3 linked regions of the Homo sapiens genome follow. The protein of the gene in region 1 purifies or fractionates together with the protein of each later gene. This does not show direct contact. Each region holds a gene or a part of one and is shown on either strand. Other genes may lie near its edges.

What was found.
Region 2: the proteins of DPH6 (region 1) and PUS7L fractionate together in Homo sapiens (co-fractionation; one large-scale study listed by BioGRID). This does not show direct contact.
Region 3: the proteins of DPH6 (region 1) and NENF fractionate together in Homo sapiens (co-fractionation; one large-scale study listed by BioGRID). This does not show direct contact.

The regions. Positions count from the first base shown.
Region 1 is NC_000015.10:35,448,661-35,452,315, forward strand, and holds part of DPH6 (diphthine--ammonia ligase), read right to left. Parts: intron 2,144-3,655; coding exon 2,025-2,143; intron 1-2,024. UniProt on the Homo sapiens protein: Amidase that may catalyze the last step of diphthamide biosynthesis using ammonium and ATP. Diphthamide biosynthesis consists in the conversion of an L-histidine residue in the translation elongation factor (EEF2) to diphthamide.
Region 2 is NC_000012.12:43,741,753-43,745,407, forward strand, and holds part of PUS7L (pseudouridylate synthase PUS7L), read right to left. Parts: intron 804-3,655; coding exon 705-803; intron 1-704. UniProt on the Homo sapiens protein: Pseudouridine synthase that catalyzes pseudouridylation of mRNAs.
Region 3 is NC_000001.11:212,442,907-212,446,661, forward strand, and holds the end of NENF (neudesin precursor), read left to right. Parts: intron 1-1,432; coding exon 1,433-1,536; intron 1,537-2,923; coding exon 2,924-3,100; 3' UTR 3,101-3,473; downstream 3,474-3,755. UniProt on the Homo sapiens protein: Acts as a neurotrophic factor in postnatal mature neurons enhancing neuronal survival. Promotes cell proliferation and neurogenesis in undifferentiated neural progenitor cells at the embryonic stage and inhibits differentiation of astrocytes.

The sequences.
Region 1 (3,655 bases):
TTAAATTGTGGTGTTAATTAAATTTAATTAAATTACAGTCTCCCACAAGGGAACACTATACTACAATAAAAATAAACACACTATTGCTTCAGTCAATAATATGGATGAGTCCCTTAAAACATTATAATGAAACAAAGAAGCCAGAAATTTTATGAGTTCATTGATGCCTATAAGACATAAAGGTTACATACCATAATTATAAAAAATATATTTGTATGCATTCATGTAGAACTGACCTTTTTCTATTATAAGACCATTTCATAGAAAAATGGTCCACAAAATTTTACTGATCCCTCTCCCCCACAGAAAGGTCTTATTGTCTCATTTTTTTTTTTTTTGCTTAAATCCAAAAAAAGTCCCTTTTTTTTGGCTTAAATCCATTTAAAATTGTTCTGATAATTTTAAATGGGAGGAAAAAGGCTTAGCAACCTATATTGCATCATTTATATGTTTCTATGTCTTCAGAAGTACTGTGCCATTTAATAAACCTTTCTTTAATATTATTCTAAAGAATAACTTTCATCTTTGCACACCTATAGGCAGTCAGCACACAGGCAGTGCTGTAAATGTTAAAATCAGATCTATATTTTTGTTACTGAGATGCCAAAGACAAATCAGCTCAGTTTTTACATTTTACCCAAAGGCTTGATAAAGCTAATTCCCCATCTCTAATCCCTACAGAGAGGCACAGATAGAAATGAAAGAACACACAATATCGGTTATATACTATTAAAAGATGGCAATAAGGTCAAATTCTTTGACTATCTTTTCAATAAGGGAGGTCTCTCTGGGTCCTAATCCAGTCTTTTATCTATCGGGCAGTAAAAGGAATAGTATGTGTACCTTTCAGTGAGACGTCACGTGAACTTCATTATGGAATTATGTAATCTTAGAAAATTCAAAGAGAGAGTGAGAGACAAAGAAAAAGCAAGAGGGAATACTCTGTACAGAGTCACATAGAAATTCATATGACAAATATAATAACGTTAATCATGAGAGCTGCTCAGCAACCTTTTCTCAGAAATAAAAACATAATATCACTCAATCTTTCTTGTTTTAACAGCTAAGGAGATCAACTACAGATTCACTAAATAAAGGCTTCAACTGAAGACAACACCTCAACTTCAGCAAGAATACAGTAGCTTGGTATTTACCATGGAGAAATATTATGGGGTCTGTACTATTTCTCTTAATTTTATTTAAAAACTGAATGTATCTGTAAAATCTTCTACAGCTTGAGACCTTGTTATTTCAGAGATCTGCAAGGTAAACACTTTCAAATGAGGTACATGATTTAGGCTTTGGGAACTCTCAGGTTTCAGGGCATTTTCTATAACAGGTTCACGAAATGAACAGACTGGGCTCAAACCCTACGGTTTCTCAAAAATGAATATAATTATAGAAATTCCAAATAAATTAAATGTGCTCATATGTAATGTCCATACTTGAATCAGATTACCACCTGCCTGCTGTGTCTATGCTAACTAATCAGATAACTTTTTCTCAAACATGATTTTCTCACCATCCCCAACAAAAACCAGTACCCTATTTATTTTTTATAACAAAAACAAAACCATCATTCTATTTTAGCATTATTCAAAATATGCTAAAAAATACAAGGAAAATGTTTTGTGTCAAATACATATTATAAAAAGCTTCCAAAAAACCTCAAAACAAAACAAAAATAACCCTTGTATTTCCTGTTTCCTACAAGCCTAAATTCCAAACCCTAAAAAAAAAAGAACTTAAAATGAAGGACTATAATACAATATCAGTTTTAGAACCTGTTATATGTTAAAAAAAAAAAAAAAAGCCTTACTAGTAATCACTTCGGCAAATGGTCAAAAGACCACTTTAAAACTTCCTTTTCTTTATGCAAGGAAGGTGCTTACTCAATTTCTTCAGCTGTGACTCCACATTTTTATATTCTAAATCAGTTTTCTTTGTTCATTTTAACTACTTATTAGTGAACTGAGATCATCTATGTGGCAACAAACAGCTCCCTTGATAGTTTGGCTGCATACCCAAAGCTGCTACTTTGATGATCATTGCTTGAATGTTAGATGATATCATCTCTCTGAGCAAATCTTCCTGGTTTCTCTGCCAAAGATAAGCTAAAGGCTGGAGATTAAGCCTTTTACACCTACAAAAGAAAAAGAAAAAGAAAGTCAGATGATCTCTTAATGTTTTATACTTGGATCCACAGCAATTACTTTGATTTGAAACATAATGCTTCGTTCAAGGATTTTAGCATTGAAAATGCTTTTAAAAACATATTTTGCATAATGTTTATATATACAACATAAACATATTTAATTTCCATGGGTTATGCATAAACTGATAAAAATGAAATTTCCAGGCACACTAGAAATATTAATTTTAGTAAGACTCTTAGTTTAGAAATCTATGTAAAAGAATTTACAAATGCCAGTATACTCTCATTTTTAAAACTTTCATGGGTATCAAAATTTTGAAGCATATGTAAAGTGGGCCAATAATTTATCCTAATAAAATAGCCACATATTTATTAAATTAACAATAGCTACAGTTATGTGAACTATTCTTATCTACTAACTTTGAATTTTTTTTTAAGAATTTGAATAAAAAGAAAATAGTAAGAAAAAAAGTACAATGCTGCAGGCACTGTACTAGATATTTTCCATTATTGGTAAAGTAGAAAAAATATAGGTTTTGGAGTGAAGACACATCTGAATTTAAAACCTCATTTTGTACTCTAGCTGCATGGCTTTTGAAGTCAAGTAAAATCTAAGTCCTTGTGCTTAGTTTCCTAGTTCATAAATAGGGGCAAAAATAGTTCCTTTCAAAGTTCTTAAGAGGATTAAAAAATGTGAAATGAAATCATCCTTTCCTTTTCTTCGCATTCCACATCCAATCTACCACAATGCAGAATGTGATCATTCCTCACTAACACCACTGCTAACAACCTCGTTTGAGCCACCATTCTCTCTCATGTCAACATCCTAATTTCCTTCCCTGCTTCCACCCTCACCCTTTTAAAATCCATTTTCAACACAGCAGCCAATGTGATCCTTTTAAGACATAAAATAGGACAGGCGCGGTGACTCACGACTGTAATGCCAGCACTTTGGGAGGCCAAGGCGGGTGGATCACGAGGTCAGGAAATCGAGACCATCCTGGCTAACACGGTGAAACCCCGTCTCTACTAAAAATACAAAAAATTAGCCAGGCATGGTGGCGGGCGCCTGTGGTCCCAGCTACTCGGGAGGCTGAGGCAGGAGAATGGCGTGAACCTGGGAGGCGGAGCTTGCCGTAAGCCGAGATTGCGCCGCTGCACTCCAGCCTGGGCGACAGAGCGAGACTCTGTCTCAAAAAACAAACAAACAAAAAAAGAAGACATAAAATAGATCATAGGATTCCTCTGCTCAAAACCCTCCAGTGGCTCCCCATCACTCCATGGATCTCACCCTGTTTAGTTCCTGCACTTTATTTCCTACTACTTATTCTCTTCTCACTCCATCCTACCACTCACTGCTGCCTGCTCATTCTTGCCTATTACACTAGTTTCGTGCCTTTGCTTAAATGTCACTTTCTCAGAGAGGACTATAATTGTTTAATGAATTAAAGGTAATATAGATAATGTAGTACAATGCCTGGATAAAACAGGTATTCAATA
Region 2 (3,655 bases), on another chromosome or scaffold:
TGATGTTCAATGCACTACGCTTCTCACAAAATCTTTTACTGTTTCTTTCTCTTCCACTCAAGAAATCATATTAGAACACAGGTGAGTGAACGAGATACTATCATAAGAATAATCTTGCATTTGTTCAAATATATAATTTTTATAGTTTTATAGTTTTCCTCCATTATGTGCACTCCATTTTAGTGTAAAAATATGTAATTACATATAAAAAATATAAATTAAAAGCAGATATACACACATACGCTTTTAATATTTCAGCAAATGCAGCTTCTTAGTTGTAACATGAATTTTTAGCTTCATTTTGAACTAGTCAGATTTTGTTTTCAAATTTACTGCTCCCCTTTTAGTCTCTGGACTTATGTGGATTCCTATCTTTTATATGATCTGATATCTGATTTCTGGGATTGTAGGATCAAAATTTCCTCTAAATCTTCTATTCAGTTCACTAAAATTGGAAAGTGATGGTCATTTCTGTGTCAAATCTCAAATATGTACTAACCACAAGGACACTCACACTGTTGGCTTTCTTGTAATGTGATATCAAGGACAGAGCAGCAGCTTACTAAATGTTCAGTAATGTAATATATTTGGTATGTGAGTGTTTACATGCATTTATATGCTAGAGTTAAGAAAGCAAGGAGCTGGGTTATGTAGTAAGTATAATTGACAGAAACAGATAAGATTACATTTTTCAAAATCCATACCATTTCATTCTTCAGCAAAGCTAGTCCAATTTGGTCTGTGTGAACTTTCCTTCCCTTCCCAAATCTCTGTGGTCCATAGTAATTCACAAAGCCTTTTTTCTATGTATACAAAATAATCAACAAATTAAGAGTATATAAATACAATTATGTGTCAAAATACACAATTGAATTTTTCTCTTCATAATTATTTTAACAGAATAACTCTGTAATCAGCAGTATACACATAGGGACCAAATGGTCTGAAAAATGCTGTAAATTAAAGAAAAGGAAAGAAAACACAGAATTAGAAGTTAGAACATAAAACCAATGAAGAAAACTTTAAAAATACGTCAGCTTTCCATTCATGTTACTGAGGGATTTCCTGGGATGTGAGATTTTCAGTGTTAAAGCCAGAAAAGTTCTGGGCTTCCAAAATGAGTTGATCACCTAGTACCAAGATCTGATCCCTACTCTGATGCTCTTTCTTATTTTGAGACTCTTCGGCTGTCTGGAGATGTCGGGAGTCAAGAACAGGCTCACTTTCAAACCCCACATATCCTGGCTCTTTTCTACATAACGTTCGTTCTTTAGTTCATCTCAGTTTCTTAAAGGCTGACCTGAGACAATGGAGCCACTTCAGCAGTACTCTACCGGTCCAGCTATTCCAGCACCTGGAACAGTCTGTATTCCAGGGGAAGAATACAGACTTCACTTCCTGCTGGAGGTGAACCATACAGGCCATGTTTTAAAACTGTCACATTACTCAGAAGAAATGGAAAACTGTAACATACTACCGCAACCATTAAAGAAATTGGTCAGTCATTAAACATGTGCTCACAAAGAAAACACCAGGCCCAGACAGTTTCTTGAAAGACAAGAGTCCTCCACACTTACTTTATGAGGAGAGTATGCATTTATTCAGTCAACAATTATTATTGAATACCAACTCAAGAACTTTTTAATAAAAGATGCGGAGCCAATTTGTTATCAGCATGGTACAAAAGCAATTGCATCTTTATCTCATGTCATTTAAAAAATTAATTGCAGGCCAGGCTCAGTGGCTCACACCTGTAATCCCAGCACTTTGGGAGGCCAAGGCCGGCGGATCACGAGCTCAGGAGATGGAGACCATCCTGGCTAACATGGTGAAACCCTGTCTCTACTAAAAATACAAAAAATTAGCTGGGCGTGGTGGCGGGCACCTGTAGTCCCAGCTACTCAGGAGGCTGGGGCAGGAGAATGGCGTGAACCCGGGAGGGGGTGCTTGCAGTGAGCCGAGATCGTGCCACTGCACTCCAGCCTGGGTGACAGAGCGAGACTCCGTCTCAAAAAAAAAAAAATTAATTACAGATAGAATAAGTACTCCCTGAATTAAATCTCATAAATATTTTTAGTTATTTCAAATTTGAAAAAATAACATAAGATGACGTCCTAGAGTAACCAGAAGAGTTTTAAATTAACCCTTCAAAGTACTTAGATATAACAAAAGGTTTATAACAGAGATATAACCCCTTGAAACAAAACTTCAAAGACTCCTTATTTTCAGGGTTTCTCAATTCCTTTCTCACATCATAAGAACTAATGGAAGTTGGCTAAAACTAAGATTGTTTCTAATGGGAATTTTGTAATAGGCAGCTGTATGTTCATAAATAACAAATGAAAGACAGGGAATAAATGCTACCAGAGTTCAAAGAAACTTCTACCTTTTTAAAGTATATCATTTTAGTAACAGTTTTTGAGGAAAAAAAAGTAGAATTTTAGGTGGGTCAAGGAAAACGAAGGTAAAACAACATATGATATGGTTTGGCTGTGTCCTCACCAAATTTCATCTTGAATTGTAATCCCCACAATTCCCACATGTCATGGGAAGGACCCGGTGGGAAGTAATTGAATTATGGGGTCGGTTTTACCCCATGCTGTTCTCATGAGAGTGAGTTCTCACGATAGTGAGTTCTCACGAGATCTGATGGTTTTACAAGTGTCTGGCATTTCCCCTGCTGGCATTCATTCTCTCTCCTGTCACCCTGTGAAGAGGTGCCTTCTGCCATGATTGTAAGTTTCCTGAGGCCTCCCCACCTATACGGAACTGTGAGTTAATTAAAGCACTTTTCTTCATAAATTGCCCAGTCTCGGGTATTTCTTCATAGCAGCATGAGAATGGACTAACAAAACATATAAAGAGTATATAATCAGATAACTTCCATATACAGATGAAAGTGCTGGATTTAAAAGATCTTTAGTTGGAAGATATTTTCCTAACTACAAGGCAGATTAATAACCAGTTTTTGTTTGTTTTCCTGTTGGACAGGTATAAAATTGTGTAAAAAGGTCTTTGTGGTGAGAAACTTGAATCAGTGTTTCTCGGTATTGGCTCTAAAGTACAGTCACCTAAGAAGTTTTTCAAAAATAAGTACTAATGCCTAACCTGCATCCCCAAATGTTCTTTTTTAATTGGTTCAGGAGTAGATATCAATGGGTGAAATTTTTTGAAAGCTCCTCAGGTTGAGAACTACTCATCTAGATCAGGGGTTAGCAAACTACTATAGCCCACAAATGAAACCTGGTCCAACACCTGTTTTTGTAAATAAAGTTTTATTGGAACACAGCCATGTTCATTCACTTATATATTGTCTGTGGCTGCTTCCATACAATGGCAGTAGATTAGTTGCAAGAGGAACCATATGTCTAAAAGGTCAAAAATTTTATTATCTGGCCCTTTACAGTATAAAGTTTGCTGATGTCTAGATGATCTAAGATGGTCTAGTCTTGAAAACTATAGTTGTATGTGCACATTTAAATGTCGGGAAAATGTCATTTAGAAACTTATGCTAAGTAATTTTTTACTGTAAAACATAAAGTTTATGATATGTTTGGCTGTGTCCCCACCCAAATCTCATCTTGAATTGTAGTTTCCATAATCCCCACTTGTCATGGGAGAGACCCAGTGGGATTGAATCATAGAGGTTGTTACT
Region 3 (3,755 bases), on another chromosome or scaffold:
ATTTTTTTGTATTTTTAGTAGAGACGGGGTTTCACCATCTTGGCAAGGCTGGTCTTGAACTTCTGACCTTGTGATCCACCCGCTTCGGCCTCCCAAAGTGCTAGTATTACAGGTGTGAGCCACCACACCTGGCCTTCCTTCCATTTTAAATGAGCAGATTGAGTTAATCTTTGTCAGTGTTTTACTTCAGCAGGGGCTTTTTTCCCCTGATAATGACATGCTTCTACTCAAAAGCCTTTCATGACTTTCCATTGCCTGTAGAATTAAATTCAAACTTAATGATTTACCCTAGTTGAAGCAATGAGAGAAGTGTTCTTTAGTAAAGAGTTGGCATTATAGAACATTACAGAACATTTTAGTGCCATTTAATGTAACTACTAATGATATCTTGGAGATAGTTTTGTATTGGTTTATCTATTATTTGATAACAAACACTGCTGAATGGGAATAGATTTGGCTTCCACCAACATTTAAGAAGAGGGAACATTTTTCTTGTTTGCATCTTTAATTTTTTTTTTGGAGACAGTCTCGCTCTGTCGCCCAGGTTAGAGTGCAGTGATGCGACCTTCTCCAGCTGCCAGGTTCAAACGATTCTCCTGCCTCAGCCTCCTGAGTAACTGGAATTACAGGTGCACGCCACCATGCCCAGATTTTTGTATTTTTAGTAGAGATGGGGTTTCACCATGTTAACCAGGCTGATCTTGAACTCCTGACCTCAAATGATCTGCCCATCTTGGCTTCTCAGAGTGCTGGGATTACAGGCGTGAGTCACCGCACCCAGCCTGCATCTCTAATATTTTTAAGAGACTATTTTCTCAGTATTAACACTTAGGTGAAAAAACAGAACGAGAAGGGGGCTAGGCACAGTGGCTTATGCTTGTAATCCCAGCGCTTTAGGAGGCCAAGGTGGGCAGATCATGTGAGCTCAGGAGTTCAAGACTAGCCTGGGCAACATGGTGAAACCCCATCTCTTCAAAAAAAAAAATACAAAAATTAGCTGGGCATGGTGGTGGCACATGCCTGTAGTCCCAGCTACTCTGGAGGCTGAGGTGGGAGAATTGCTTGAACCCGGGAGGTGGAGATTGCAGTGAGCCAAGATTGTGCCACTGCACTCCAGCCTGGGCAAGAGTGAGACCCTGTCAAAAAAAAACAACAACAAAAGAGGTTGTAGGGGTACTATTCTCATTTTATATTTTCTGAAAATCCCTGCTCAGCCTGCATGTGTGACTTACTTCACATTTAGAGTAAGTGGAATCCAACCTGATGGCTGGGGTGGCTTACTGGACTTTGTATCGCCATTGTTTGGCCTCTCCGTGAGCGTGGAGTCTTTTTTAGGATTGGGTGCGGGCCTTGGGAGCGCCCCCACGTGCAAGCTCCTGGTTACTCTGCATGTAAACCCACGCTTACGTCTCTTCCTTCCTTCCCACTACAGAGTTTTATGGACGAGGAGCCCCCTACAATGCCTTGACGGGGAAGGACTCCACTAGAGGGGTAGCCAAGATGTCCTTGGATCCTGCAGACCTCACCCATGACACTGTGAGCCAGATTATAAGCCTTTGTAAAATCCTCTACCTCCTTGTCCATGCCTTTTTCTCTTTTTCTTTTTCTTTTCGTGTGTGTGTGTGTGTGTGTGTGTGTGTGTGTGTGTGTGTGTGTGTGTGTATCTGGGCAAGAGCAAGCCTTCCTAATTAGCTTATTTACCCTTCGGTCCACTTGGTATGGTGGCCAGGCATTTTCTTGAAATAGATTATCCTACCATGTCATCTCGACTCAGAAACCTTCCATGGCTGTCTGTTGCCTAGAGTCAAGTCCAAACTCTTATGAACTTGTGATCCAACTCAGTGATCATCACAATTTGGCCCCAACCTGCTTTGGCAACCTAATGCTCCTTATGGTCTGTACCTGCCACCCCATCCCCTCAGCCCCTTACAGCCTTGCTATTAGTCTCTGAGACCCATTCCCCAGGCCATGCTTGGTAGCTTTGTGGATGAACTGGGTTGGGAAGAAAGGTCTCCCTCTATGCTTATATTTCTGTGAAGGAGAAGATAGCATTAAAACATTTTTTAGGCCAGGAGTGGTGGATCATGCCTGTAATCCCAGCACTTTGGAAGGCAAAGGCAGGTGGATCACCTGAGGTCAGGAGTTTGAGACTAGCCAGGCCAGCATGGAGAAACCCCGTCTCTACTAAAAATACAAAAATTAGCTGAGTGTGGTGGTGCACACCTGTAATCCCAGCTACTTGGGAGGTTGAGGCAGGAGAATCGCTCGAATCCAGGGGGCGGAGGTTACAGTGAGTTGAGATCATGCCACTGTGCTCCAGCCTGGGCAACAGAGTGAGACTCCATCTCAAAAAAAAAAAAATTTGTTTTTTAAACCTATTCAAGGTCTAAATAATTCCAACAGTAAGGCTGGAATTTCCTCTAACTGTGCTCAACATCAAACTGACATTGAGATAAATTGAGATGAGCCAAACTCATAACAAAATGAATGTAACAATATTACAAAAATGAATGAAGAACTTAAGAAAGGGGAAGGTGCCAAATGTATAATGGGAGGAGTGTAGAGAGAGGGATAATGGGAGCAGTGTAGAGAGAGGGAGGATTAATCGGGGGGAGGAAGGGGATGCAGATGCAATAGGGCATGCCCTGCCCCACCCCAGCATGCTCTCTGGAGTCTTTCATCCCTTCCATCAGTCAAACCACAAAGTGTGATGAAGCATTGCTCCCCGTATGTTATACCCTCCCACCCCCACGCCCCCCCCACAGCAGTGTCTCTTAAGCCATTTGTCCATTATTTGGTTTGTTGAGATATCTTTTCTCTTGCATTAGGGATGTGGGAGGCAAGGCAGGGATGGAGAAAGGCCAGTGCCAAACACTATCCACTTAACCCCATCTCCTGTCTTTCTTGGGCTTTTCTCCCCAAGACGGGTCTCACGGCCAAGGAACTGGAGGCCCTGGATGAGGTCTTCACCAAAGTGTACAAAGCCAAATACCCCATCGTCGGCTACACTGCCCGGAGAATTCTCAATGAGGATGGCAGCCCTAACCTGGACTTCAAGCCTGAAGACCAGCCCCATTTTGACATCAAGGATGAGTTCTGATGTTCCCCCTGCAGGAGCAGGTTCTTGGGAGCGTGAGGCAGGAAGACACTAGGTGCTGAATCTCCTGCAAAACTGGCTGCCTGGAGGCCCTGAGCCACCCAGATCTGAATAAAACAGATGCTTACCCTGGAAGAGCAAATGCCTCCTGTTGTCCTTGGTCAGGGGTTCTGTCTACCTGGGGACCCCTGTCTGCACACCAGGGATCAATAAGAGCCAAAGTGGGACACCTCCTAGATGTCAGTATCAGCTGGCTGGGCAGTGGAATTTTGAGCGACCTTTACTTTATACTTTTCTGTGCTTGACAGATTTTCAGCCATGACCATGTTCACTTTATAATCAAAACAAAAATAAAGGTCCCATTTTTACAAAAGGAGAATTCTTCCCCAGAGGCCATTTCCTTGGAGCCCACATAAGCGGGTGGGCTGTGTTGTTCTTCCATAGTCCTGCGGGGCCGGATGGTGGGGCATTTAGGCAATGGGCAGGAAAAGAGAGTGGTGAGGTGGGAGGGTGGGCGATGGGAAGGGAGCCAGGAAACCCGGCTGGAGTGAGGGTGGGAACTGGCTTCAGTGCACGTGCAGCTGGAGATTGGTGAGGAGGGCCGGGGTCAGTGTGGGCAGAGCCTGGTGGAGGTCATTCCAAGAACGGGAGGCATATT